Homo sapiens: one gene and its partners. The protein of the gene in region 1 purifies or fractionates together with the protein of each later gene. This does not show direct contact. Each region holds a gene or a part of one and is shown in the gene's direction. Other genes may lie near its edges. The genes, in order: CTIF, DNAAF9 and MAP7.

The links.
Region 2: the proteins of CTIF (region 1) and DNAAF9 fractionate together in Homo sapiens (co-fractionation; one large-scale study listed by BioGRID). This does not show direct contact.
Region 3: the proteins of CTIF (region 1) and MAP7 purify together in Homo sapiens (affinity purification with mass spectrometry, with the first as the bait; one study listed by BioGRID). This does not show direct contact.

Annotation. Positions count from the first base shown.
Region 1 is NC_000018.10:48,856,894-48,860,385, forward strand, and holds part of CTIF (CBP80/20-dependent translation initiation factor), read left to right. Parts: intron 1-694; coding exon 695-748; intron 749-2,450; coding exon 2,451-2,666; 3' UTR 2,667-3,492. UniProt on the Homo sapiens protein: Specifically required for the pioneer round of mRNA translation mediated by the cap-binding complex (CBC), that takes place during or right after mRNA export via the nuclear pore complex (NPC).
Region 2 is NC_000020.11:3,250,558-3,254,206, reverse strand, and holds part of DNAAF9 (dynein axonemal assembly factor 9), read left to right. Parts: intron 1-387; coding exon 388-481; intron 482-1,522; coding exon 1,523-1,635; 3' UTR 1,636-3,649. UniProt on the Homo sapiens protein: May act as an effector for ARL3.
Region 3 is NC_000006.12:136,543,908-136,547,556, reverse strand, and holds part of MAP7 (ensconsin), read left to right. Parts: intron 1-3,649. UniProt on the Homo sapiens protein: Microtubule-stabilizing protein that may play an important role during reorganization of microtubules during polarization and differentiation of epithelial cells. Associates with microtubules in a dynamic manner.

The DNA of each region.
Region 1 (3,492 bases):
ATTTTGTGTTATGTGAATGGTATCTCAATTTAAAAGAGACAGAGAGATTGAGAGAATGAGCCAGGCAAGTCGGGGGAAGCATGGACTGTAGCACGGCAGGACTGAGCGCTGAGCAGCCCAGCCATGGCCCTAGTTAGGAAACAGTTCCAGCCCCTGAGTAAGTCCACAGGTTTGTGGGTTTGAAAGTCTACAGCACTGGGCCAGTGGAGAAGAGGGCTTTGACTCCTGGACTTCCTCCTGTGGCCAGGGCCCAGGGGTGCCTGAGTCAATGGCTGAACCTCCTCACCCATAGAGGAGTTACCAATTATACGTCTCTAAGCTAATTTCATTTCCCTGAGGACTTCTGCTGACCAGTTGTTAACACTGGATGATCCCAGCGCACTCACTGCTGCAGGCTTTCTCTTCAGTGGCCTCTTGAATCACGGTGTTCAGACCTGGCCCAGGGGCTCCACATCGCACCATCACACTGACCTCCAGCTGCTCTAACCCTGTCGGAGAAATCACGGCCACCCGGCGCAACTGACTTTCTGCTCTCTGACTTTTGTGGGCTCTCACTCTAGCCTGAACCTTGGAGATGTTTGTTACAGGCCGCATCAGGGCTGGGGCTGCAGGTCGGCGGGGGCTGCAGGGAGCTACAGGGCCCAGTAGCCGGCATGTCTCCTTCAGTGGTGCTCTCTGCCCCTCTCTTCCACAGCTCTTGCAATCTCAGGATGTGAAGGAAGATGCTGTCCTTTGCTGCTCTATGGAGGTAAGCTTTGGGGCTTCGACATCCCCAACCTCAAAGCCGGTGCATCTCTCATGCCTTAACAGTTCTAGGGGCACGAGGGTTGTTGGAGGCATTTACAAGTCCAGGGGAAGGTAGGTGGATGGCTTCAGGAGTGGGCATGGACTTCTGCATCCAGAATTATCCACCCCAAGCCAGAGTGAACACTGATGGTGAGAGCAGCTCACCCCTGACTGAAGGGAGAGAGAAGTGATTCCCAGTGGCATTGCCTACTTCCCTGTCCCCCAAAGACCCCCTGCGCCCCAGCTCAGGCATGCCACACAAATGACTTAAGAAGTTCCTGATTACCTCTGCCCTCAAATATTTCCCTTTGCTTTGCTAATGCTTGGCAATGCAGTGCTGGCACAGCCCACCCGAAAGCACACCTCTTGGGAGGTGCCACTCCTGTCCCTAAGCTGTGGCCCCTGCTAATGGAGACTCTTCCTCTGGGCTCTCCCTTTAGCGCCTGGCTTTGGCCCAGTCCCTGGGCAGATCTCTGCCCTCTGCAGATGGTCCAGAGTCACTCAGAGTGGGATGCAGGCAGGAGAGGGGCTTCCAGACGAGGACCTGGGCCTGGCAGCTGTCATAAGCATACTCAGGTGGCTTCCGCCTGGCTGCAAAGGCCTCACTGAGGAGCTCAGAGGCCAGAAGCACTGGGAGCCAGATGGCAGTCTTGGGTCTGTGGGACTCAGTTTGTTTGTTGGCCTCCAGCTGGGCACCCTACAGGGGGCTTGGGATTAGGGGGGAATTAGGGAGAAGGAGAAAGCCTGGTCCTTGCCCTCAGGCAGCTTCCAGTCTGGTTAGGAATAGCTCTCAGAGAGTAGATAGAATAAGTGTAAGTACAGAGACATCCCTGAAGAGTCAGGGGAGAGAGGTCAGGAAGGGCTCAGGGGTTCAAGGGAGGCTTTGTGAAGAAGGCAGAGACTAGAAAAATGAATGGGACAAGGCTGGGGACCGAGACGGGGACTGAGATTCTATAGAGAGGGCCTGGGGGGCACTGGCCAGGGGTGTGCTGGTCCAGGAATAGGGGCTCCTTCCCAGTGGGCTTTTCAAGATTATCTAGGGCTCTCCTGACGGCCTCTGGCTGGCCTTCTTCCCCAGTTTGTATTTCTCTCCCCCACTTCCTGTCACAAGCATGAGCAGAGGTCACTTCTGGGGGCTGGGAGATGGGATCAGGATCAGGAGAAAAGGAGAGCGAGAGAAACAGGAGGCATCACCCCTGCTCTCAAGTTCCAATGGACACATGTAATAATGACTAAGCTCATTGCCAGAGAGACGCCCCAGCAAGTGAAAATGACCACAGGGCCCCCTGATCACCAAGGGGCACAGATCATGGAGCCATTTGAGGGTGCGGATGTAGTCAGGGAAGGCTTCCTGGAAGAGGGAGGCTCTTGGGTAAAAGGGACAAGAGGCATGTTCCTGGTGACAGCTCTTTCAGCCCTGGGCAGTAGGCAATATTCGGATCCCTCTGGATCCTGCTGGCAGATTGGTTGGTAAATGTGAGCTCTCACTCTTGGCTACTCCACCTTCCACTCTCCCTGTCCTCATTCCAGCTGTGGCACAGGGGTCTGGGCCTGTGTGTCCTTAAGACAACCCAGCTATTTCCTATCCCTGCCCACCTAATCAGGGTGGCCAGTGGGCCACTGTGGGACCCGAGGCCATCCTAACCCCACATCTCTGTCTGCAGCTGCAGAGTACAGGCCGGCTGCTGGAGGAACAGCTGCCTGAGATGATGACAGAGCTCCTGGCCAGCGCACGGGACAAGATGCTGTGCCCCTCGGAGTCCATGCTGACCCGGTCGCTGCTCCTAGAGGTCATCGAGCTCCACGCTAACAGCTGGAACCCTCTGACGCCCCCCATCACGCAGTACTACAACAGAACCATCCAGAAACTGACAGCCTGACAGCCAGGGGGCCTGGCAGGCGGCCCACGGGCAGCTGGGGCCCTGGTGCACAGGGCCAGATGGACAGGCGGGAGGACAGGGGTGGCCCTGGCGGGAGAAAGAAATGGGGAGGAGGGCAGGCAGAGTCGGTGGCCAGTCTGGAGCCAGACGGGGAAGGGAGCAAATCCCTGAGAGGAGTGCCCCCGCACAAGCCCCCCAGCCCGAGCATGCAAGCTCACACCAATAAGGGAAGCATGTTTCTTTTTCCTGGTGGCCCTGGCCCTCCCCTTCCTCACTCCCGCCTCTCCCCTCCCCATCAGACCCATCCCCCACGGAGCTTTGTGTGAGGGATCTCATCGCTGTGACTCCTCGGAGACCTTGGCAGCCTCGCACGCCGGGGCACCGCTTGGGTCAGAAAGGACCTCGGAAGGCTGAAAAAGTGGGTCGGAGACGGGCTCGCATTGTTCCCGCATGCTGTCAGCCGCAGTCGCCAACTGGCAGCAGGCGACGTGTAGCAGATGTCCGGGAGGACAAAGGCAGGCACGGTCCCCACCAGCCGCCCGTAATTGACGGCCTTTGTCAGCCATGGCAGAGCTGACGCTCCACCTCCCACCTCCAAGTCCTCCTCACTGCAGCCCCCACAGCCTCAGGCCTAGGGGGTCAGGCGCAGCGGGGGAGATGGAGTTTGCAGTTCCACTTGCACTCTTTTGTTTATTGTGTTTTATTTTTCAAAAGTCGGTTGCTTTGAAGTCTCTTTGGCCAATGAAAATGCCCGTGATGTGATCACACAGTCAGCACTGTTGAGGACCCCCGGATTAGTGGGAGATCAAACCCAGCTCCCCTCTAG
Region 2 (3,649 bases), on another chromosome or scaffold:
CTCGGGAGGCTGAGGCAGGAGAATTGCATGAACCCAGGAGATGGAGGTTGCAGTGAGCCAAGATCACGCCACTGCACTCCAACCTGGGTGACAAAGCAAGACTCTATCTCAAAAAAATAAATAAATAAATAAAAGAGTGTGTTTGCACATCAGTACCACTGCACACCGTGGGAACTTCATCCCACTAGGACCTCCCAGAGCTCCTCACCTGAGAGGTGGGGAACCACCTCAGGCAGGGCTTGAGGTTTGCCGGGGGTGTTAGCTTCCTAGCTCCTCTGTATAGCAGAGTAGTCTATCTTGCTAGGGAAATAGACTTGTTTGTTTTAATGAGTGAGTGAAGTATAGAAAGTAGTCAGATAATTATTACAGGTCTCTTTTCTCCTACAGGTAAAACGCCACTTGGAACCCCTACCTGCAGGCTACTTTTATAATGGCACCCAATTTGTTAACTTCTTTGGTGACAAAACTGATTTTCACCCACGTATCCTTGGAACAGCGTGGTCCCTGTGTGGAACCCGGGCAGTGAGGCTGGGAGTGTGTGACCCTGTCTGCAAAGCGGTTGTCTGCCAGAGCCATGCATTTGAGCCCCAGGAGCACTCTGCATGTCCACTGATGGGTCAGGAATGCACAGGGGCAAACCTCAGGGGCGAACTTTTCATTTCAGTCTCTAAAGCTGTTAAAGTTAAATTGCTCCTTTATTGAGTGATTGCTAATGTGACTCTGGGTTATAGTTTTTTGGTTTTGTCTTGTTTTAATTTTTTTTTGGAGATGGAGTTTCACTCTTGCTGCCCAGGCTGGAGTGCAATGGCGCAATCTCAGCTCACTGCAACCTCCGTCTCCCAGGTTCAAGTGATTCTCCTGCCTCAGCCTCCCGAGTAGCTGGGATTACAGGCGCCTGCCGCCGTGCCCGGCTAATTTTGTATTTTTAGTAGAAACGGAGTTTCTCCATGTTGGTCAGGCTGGTCTCAAACGCCTGACCTCAGGTGATCCTCCCACCTCAGCCTCCTGAAGTGCTGGGATTACAGACATGAGCCACCGCGCCCAGCTTAGAGACTAGGTCTCGCCATGTTGCCCAGGCTGGTCTCAAACTCCTGGGCTCAAGTGATCCATCTACCTCAGCCTCCCAAATTGCTAGTATGGCAGGCATGAGCCACTGCGCCCAGCCTGTGAGTTATAGTTTGGATGCAGCTGCGGTGATATCCTGAAGTCTGTCGTCATCAGAGTCACGATTTACAAGTCGAAGACAGCCTAATTACAACAGTTAACCTGTGAAAAGATGGATAGGGCTGAAGCTGAAGGGCTCAGTTCTAGGACCTCATTAACATCCCTGTGACAACAGCCATTGCATTCTTTGTAGCTGTGGTGCTGCCAGTATATACAAAGAGTCCATCAGGTTCCCTCTCTATGGGCCAGACACTCACTTCCTCAGCAAACCCCCCTCACCTGCCTACAGGCCGCTCTGGGCTCAGGCAGCCTCCCTTGTCCTCCAGGCTCAGAGCTCTCTTCCTTAATGAGATACCAGTCATGGACCAGTTCATGAATGACTACGTGGAAGAAGCCAACCGGGAAATTGAGAAGTATAACCAGGAGCTGGAACAGCAGGAGTATCATGACCTCTTTGAGCTGAAGCCCTAGAGGAAGGCTGGGCCCGTACGTCCTGCAGAATGTCCACCTTGGAGATGGACGAACGGGTGTCTTAACCTCAGCTCTGCTGGAGGCCTCTCCCTTAAGGGGCTGTCTTTGTTCTCCTTGGCCTGTGTGGGCTGGCTTGAGTGCATGTTGTCTTTATTCCCTGTATAGCGCTGAAGAGCATCACCTGCACCATTGATTTTGGGGGTCGGGGGAATACTCAAGGATGAGCAGATGGGGCCTGCCCGTCTACGTGTGCAACTGGCAGTCCAGGAGCTCTGGGTTTCTGATAACAGGATCTCCTTTGGGCTCTTGAGGTTGGGGAGAAGCATTAGGATTACACAGAGGAGCTACTGGGACTTAGAAGGAACCCTGGCTGCCTGAACTGTGGCCGTGTCTGGGAGGCGAGGCCACGACAGGCCTCAAGCCTCAGATGCTGCTCCACGAGAGCCATCTTCCCCAGTGGAGTGCCTGCCTCCCCTGCTAGGCCCGTTTCCCTGAAGGAGCTGGCCGTACTGGCCGTGGGCCCAGTCCTGGGAGGAGCAGCACAGCCTTGCCCAGGCCCAGTCCACAGAGCCAGCAGCTTGGGTTGAGATGAATGATGTGTTCACAAATGAGGGGATTTCCCTTCTGGACTAAACTGAAGGAGAGGCTTGTTGCTTTCCAGAGGTGTGTGGCTCTTAAGTTGACATCAGCTTTTCCCCTTGTGGGTGGTTCTTTAGCTCTCCTGTCACACCATTCGGGTGTCCTAATGTAGGGACAAGAGCAAGCCTGCTGCTCAGGCCCCCTGGCGAGGCTTCACCTCACTGTGGAAGGGGGCGTCCTGCAGCTGGTTAGTCTTAGGCCTGGTGGCTGATCACTTGTGGGGTCAGTCTCCAGCACCCAGCGCTCCCACAAGCCTTGCCAAGGAAGGCCTGCTTTTCAGCCACAAACTTCAGGAAACTCATCCCCCCGCTCCCCAAAGTGTTGTTGCTGGCCCTGGGCTTGTGTGGCTCCTGAGGATTGGGAATTTCAAATAATTGCAATACCTGAGTTAGAATTCCTTCTAATGGCATCGTTTTAAGCTGGACCATAAAGCAGAGGGGAATTACAAGTGTGTCCCATGCCTGACCTTCATAATTGGTGTGGGGGACAGGGGAGTCACAGCCACTGATATTTAGGTGATGTCTCTTAGGACTTCAGTGCCTCAGCTGCCTGAACTGTAAATGTTTTCTGAATTTCACATATTTTTTTTTGCATGCCTTAGGAAGAAGCACATAGGTAAAACCAGCAGTTTCCAGTAATATAGGGGGTTTTTGAGCAAGGCCCCTGGAGCAGCGGAGAGACAAGATGGAGCACATGTAGTCTGTGTGCCTGGTCACACAGAGGCCTGCATGCAAGTAGCAAAGCAGCTCTCAAGGGCTTGTCAGTAAAATATATTAGAAAAAAAAAAAAAACAATTTGAAGCCAAATGAACAAAACTCCAGATACCATTGATAAGAAATTTTGCATCAAGAAGGGCTTCTGAAAAGACCCACGTGCTCCAGTCCCAGCTCCAAAAGCCACTGATGACAAGGGCCCCACTGTGGAACCTAAGTCTGGGAGCCCCCTGACTTCTGGCTGGCCAGAGGCTGCGGTCCGTCAAGGGCTTGCCTCGCTTCAGAATCAGTAACATAGATCTTAAGTGCAATTGATTAATAAGCAGTGAGTTACTGTAGCTTCCTTTAGCTCTACCGAACTCTTTTTAAAAACTCAAACTTGAGCAGCCTTAGAAAAGGGGTTGGGGGGTGGGAACCACAGGCCATTTCTCTAAGTGGGCTGCTGTGAAGTTTTAAATGAAAGCTCTAGCTTTAGGAGCTTGAGCCATTTCCTGACTGCACTGGCCTGGCAGTCTGGCTGCTGCAGAAGAGTTTTTAAAGAGGGGTCGGAGCCCGCCCGTGAGAGCGGGTCTTCTCACCATGTGGGGCTGTACTACGTGGTGGTCTTTGTTTCTCTTCACAGAAATGCTCTCTCACCAACTTGCCCCACTGTCCCAACTCCT
Region 3 (3,649 bases), on another chromosome or scaffold:
AAGACATCACCACTAGAGGATGTCAAGTCCTTTTTCAGCCTTTTTTGAGTAGTCGACCTACGATGGGTGATATTCACAAAACTGCCTCTACCCAAGCTTTGTATATTTAATTTTATGTTCATGTTCAAGAGCTGTGGAAAGCGAGTGTACAGCACTAATTTCCTAGTCTGATAGCCTGTTTTAAAAACCTCCTGAACTAAAAGCAAATTTAAAGCTGCTTTTGATTAATTCATGAAGCTTTCATGCACGAAGGAATAAGTTAATGCCAATAACCTGTCAATTCTGTTGATATTTTGGGAAGTGGGTCATGACTTAGAATCTGGAATTGGGCTTTTTGTCCATTTTAGCAACCTGTGTGGTGAACATGGCCTCTTTCGTGACCATCCTTTCATGAACTTTTCCAAATCAAAAAGTGATCTTGTAGGTGTCACTTAACTCTAAGGGTCCACATTAAATATCTGCAATTAAATAAGGGCTCAGACGTCAATTTGGTATTAAGCTTGTCCCCTTTGAAAGAGATGCTTCATTCACATAGCTAGATAGCTTTTCTCCCATCCTATATGGCTGTTACCTTTACATCTTGCTAAGTAGGAGGAAACGTTATTATTAGACTAGGCAATTGTGCTCAGGAGCATGCATTTATGTAATATTGATAGGCTTGTGTGAAATATTTTTACACAGTTTATTTACACTGGCATTTTCTCTAAAAAAATTCTAACATCTTTGCCTCCCAATGCATGAGAAACAATCATTTGGAAGAGTTATTTTTAAAAACTCGGGCCTCGTATTGATGTAAGAATTGAAAATATTGAGGCTTAGAATAAGAAATGTGTACCTTCTGTGTATTCAGCATTATGGTGGTTAGAAGGCTGTTGAACAAATGATCCTTGAATTTAGCAAGGAAGACAAAATTCACCAACAAACAGTTGCAGGTTATGAGGAGTTCAGTGAAGGAGGAATCACTTCCGGCTGTGGTCAGCAGGAAGAACATACTGGATACAGCACTGAAGTTAAATTTTAAAAAGTGGTGGAACTGGAGATCATTATGTTAAGTGAAATAAGCCAGGCACAGAAAGACAAACATTGCATCTTCTCACTCATTTGTAGGATCTAAAAATCAAAACAATTGAACTCATGGACAGAGAGAGTAGAAGCATGGTTACCAGAGGCTGAGAAGAGTAGTGGGGGTAGGGGGTGGGAGGTGGCAGGGAGGTGGGGATGGTTAATGGTTTGAAAAAAAAAAAGGCCAGAGGCAGTAGCTCACGCCTGTAATCTCACCACTTTGGGAGGCTGAAGCAGGCAGATCACATGAGGCCAGGAGTTTGAGACTAGCCTGGGTTACGTGGTAAAACCCCATCTCTACTAAAAATAAAAAAATTAGCCTGGTGTGGTGGCGCACGCTTATAGTTCCAGCTCTTTGGGAGGCTGAGGCAGAAGAATCACTTGAACCCAGGAGGTTGAGGTTGCAGTGAGCCAAGATTGCACCACTGCACTCCAGCCTGGGTGACAGAGCGAGACCATGTCTCAAAAAACAAAAAGTTAGAAAGAATAAGAATAGTAACAAATACTATTTGATAGCACAGCAGATTGATTATAGTCAATAACTTAATTGTACTTTTAAAAATATCTAAGAGTGTAATTGGATTGTTTGTAACACAAAGGATAAATGCTTGAGGGGATGGATACCCCATTCTCCATGATGTAATTATTTCACATTGCATGCCTGTATCAAAACATTTCATGTACCATATAAATATATATACCTACTATTTACCCACAAAAATAAAAAAAAATTAAATTTGTTTTAATTTAAAAAATAAAAAAATAAACTTTTAAAAATGGGTAAGTGGGATATAAAATTAGATGGAGGAAAGGGAGAAAAAGATGCAGGTGTGAAAAAGAGCAAAGTTTTGGTCATATTGACACATGTGTAAAGCTCAAAGAAAGTCCTAGGTCAGTTAGGAATGATTGTTCATCGAAGTCAAATTGTGGAAGGGCTGAAGGCCAAACTGAGAGGCTAGTACATTTTTCTGGGGTAGGGTAGTGGGGGAAGTGTTGAGGATTCTTGAGAATAAAGGATATTGATTAAAGCAGGAATAATCAGGTAGTTCTGTGCCCATGAATCTTGAAATATTGATTGCAAGTTCTAACAAGAGCTCAGCTGTGCCTTTAGCTAATGAAAGCAAAGTTCCTCCCTCTGGGAAAGTCATTCTCTTCCATTGATTTTTTTTTTTTTTTCTTTTACTGCTTTGGGAAGGGTGCACCTGGAGGGATGAGAATGCATGAGGAATATCTGCCTAGCCAGATTAGCCAAATCTCTGGAGATCAATGAAGGGCTAGGTCTACTCAGCTGGTCCTCATTTCAAAGTAGCAACGTGGACTTGAGGATGGACTGAAGAAGAGTTCAGCGACATACACACCAACTTTGAGATTCCTGCAGAAATCCAGGCAGTCATTAGCATGGCAATAGGAAGAGACGATTAATTTAAGGTTCTGCAGGGGCATGTGTCAAAGGATTGCAGGTAAAAAGGTGACATATGAGACTTTTCCAAGTTTGAGTTTGGCTCATTGACTTATTGGAAAATATTCATGAGGAGGACCTGTTTTGTTCTTTACCCCAAAGAGATGGGGGGCGGGTCTTGCTATGTTGCCTGGGCTGGACTTGAACTCCTGGGCTCAAGTGATCCTCCCGGCTTAGCTGTTCGAGTAGCTGGGACTACAGGCATGCACCACTGTGTCCAGCAGAATCAGGTTTTGGTGGGAGAAACAGGAAAAAAACCTCTCTGCTTTAGACATGAAAATGTGTGGTACAAGAGAGATCTGTAAGTGGAAATGTTCAAAAGGCAACTGGAAGTATAGGACTAAAAGAGAAAAATAGAGGTCAGGACTCTGGGATTCACTCCATAAAGGAATAATAGCTGAAGGTTTGGGAGTGAGGAGAGCTCAGAAAAACCACAAAGGGGTGAGACGACCTGTAAAGCATGGGAGGAGGAAGAGCCAGCAAAGCAGACAGATGGAAAAGCACAGCTGAGCAATGTCACACCTGCTGAGAGGGATGGAGAGGTAAGGGATTCAAAGACTGATGAAGACATTTTATAAAAAGCTGTTGGTTTGGTTACAAATAGTCACTGACCAACCCCAGAAGAGGAATTTCAGTTGTTGGTGCAAGAGTTGGGGCTACATCAGATTAGAAGTGATTGTGAGATAAGCAGTTTGGGAAGAAAGGTAGCCAATTTAATAGACCCTCCCATAAAGCTTGCTGGTGAGAGGAAAAAATTACAAATCCTTGAATAGGCAGAGGGATTTTAAAAAATCTATTCTAAAATTTGCGTACAGTCCAGGTGCGGTGGCTCATGCCTGTAATCCCAGCACTTTGGGAGACCAAGGCGGGCAGATCGCTTGAGCTCAGGAGTTCGAGACCAGCCTGGGCAACATGGCAAAGCCCCATCTCTACTGAAAATACAAAAATTAGCCAGGTGTCGTGGCATACATCTGTAATCCGAACTACACAGGAGGCTGAGGCAGGAGAATTGTTTGAACCTGGGAGACGGAGGGTGTAGTGAGCCGAGATGGTAGCACCACATTCCAGCCTGGGCAACAGAGCATGACACCTTCTCGAAAAAAATAATTTGTGTGCAAAAAAAATTAC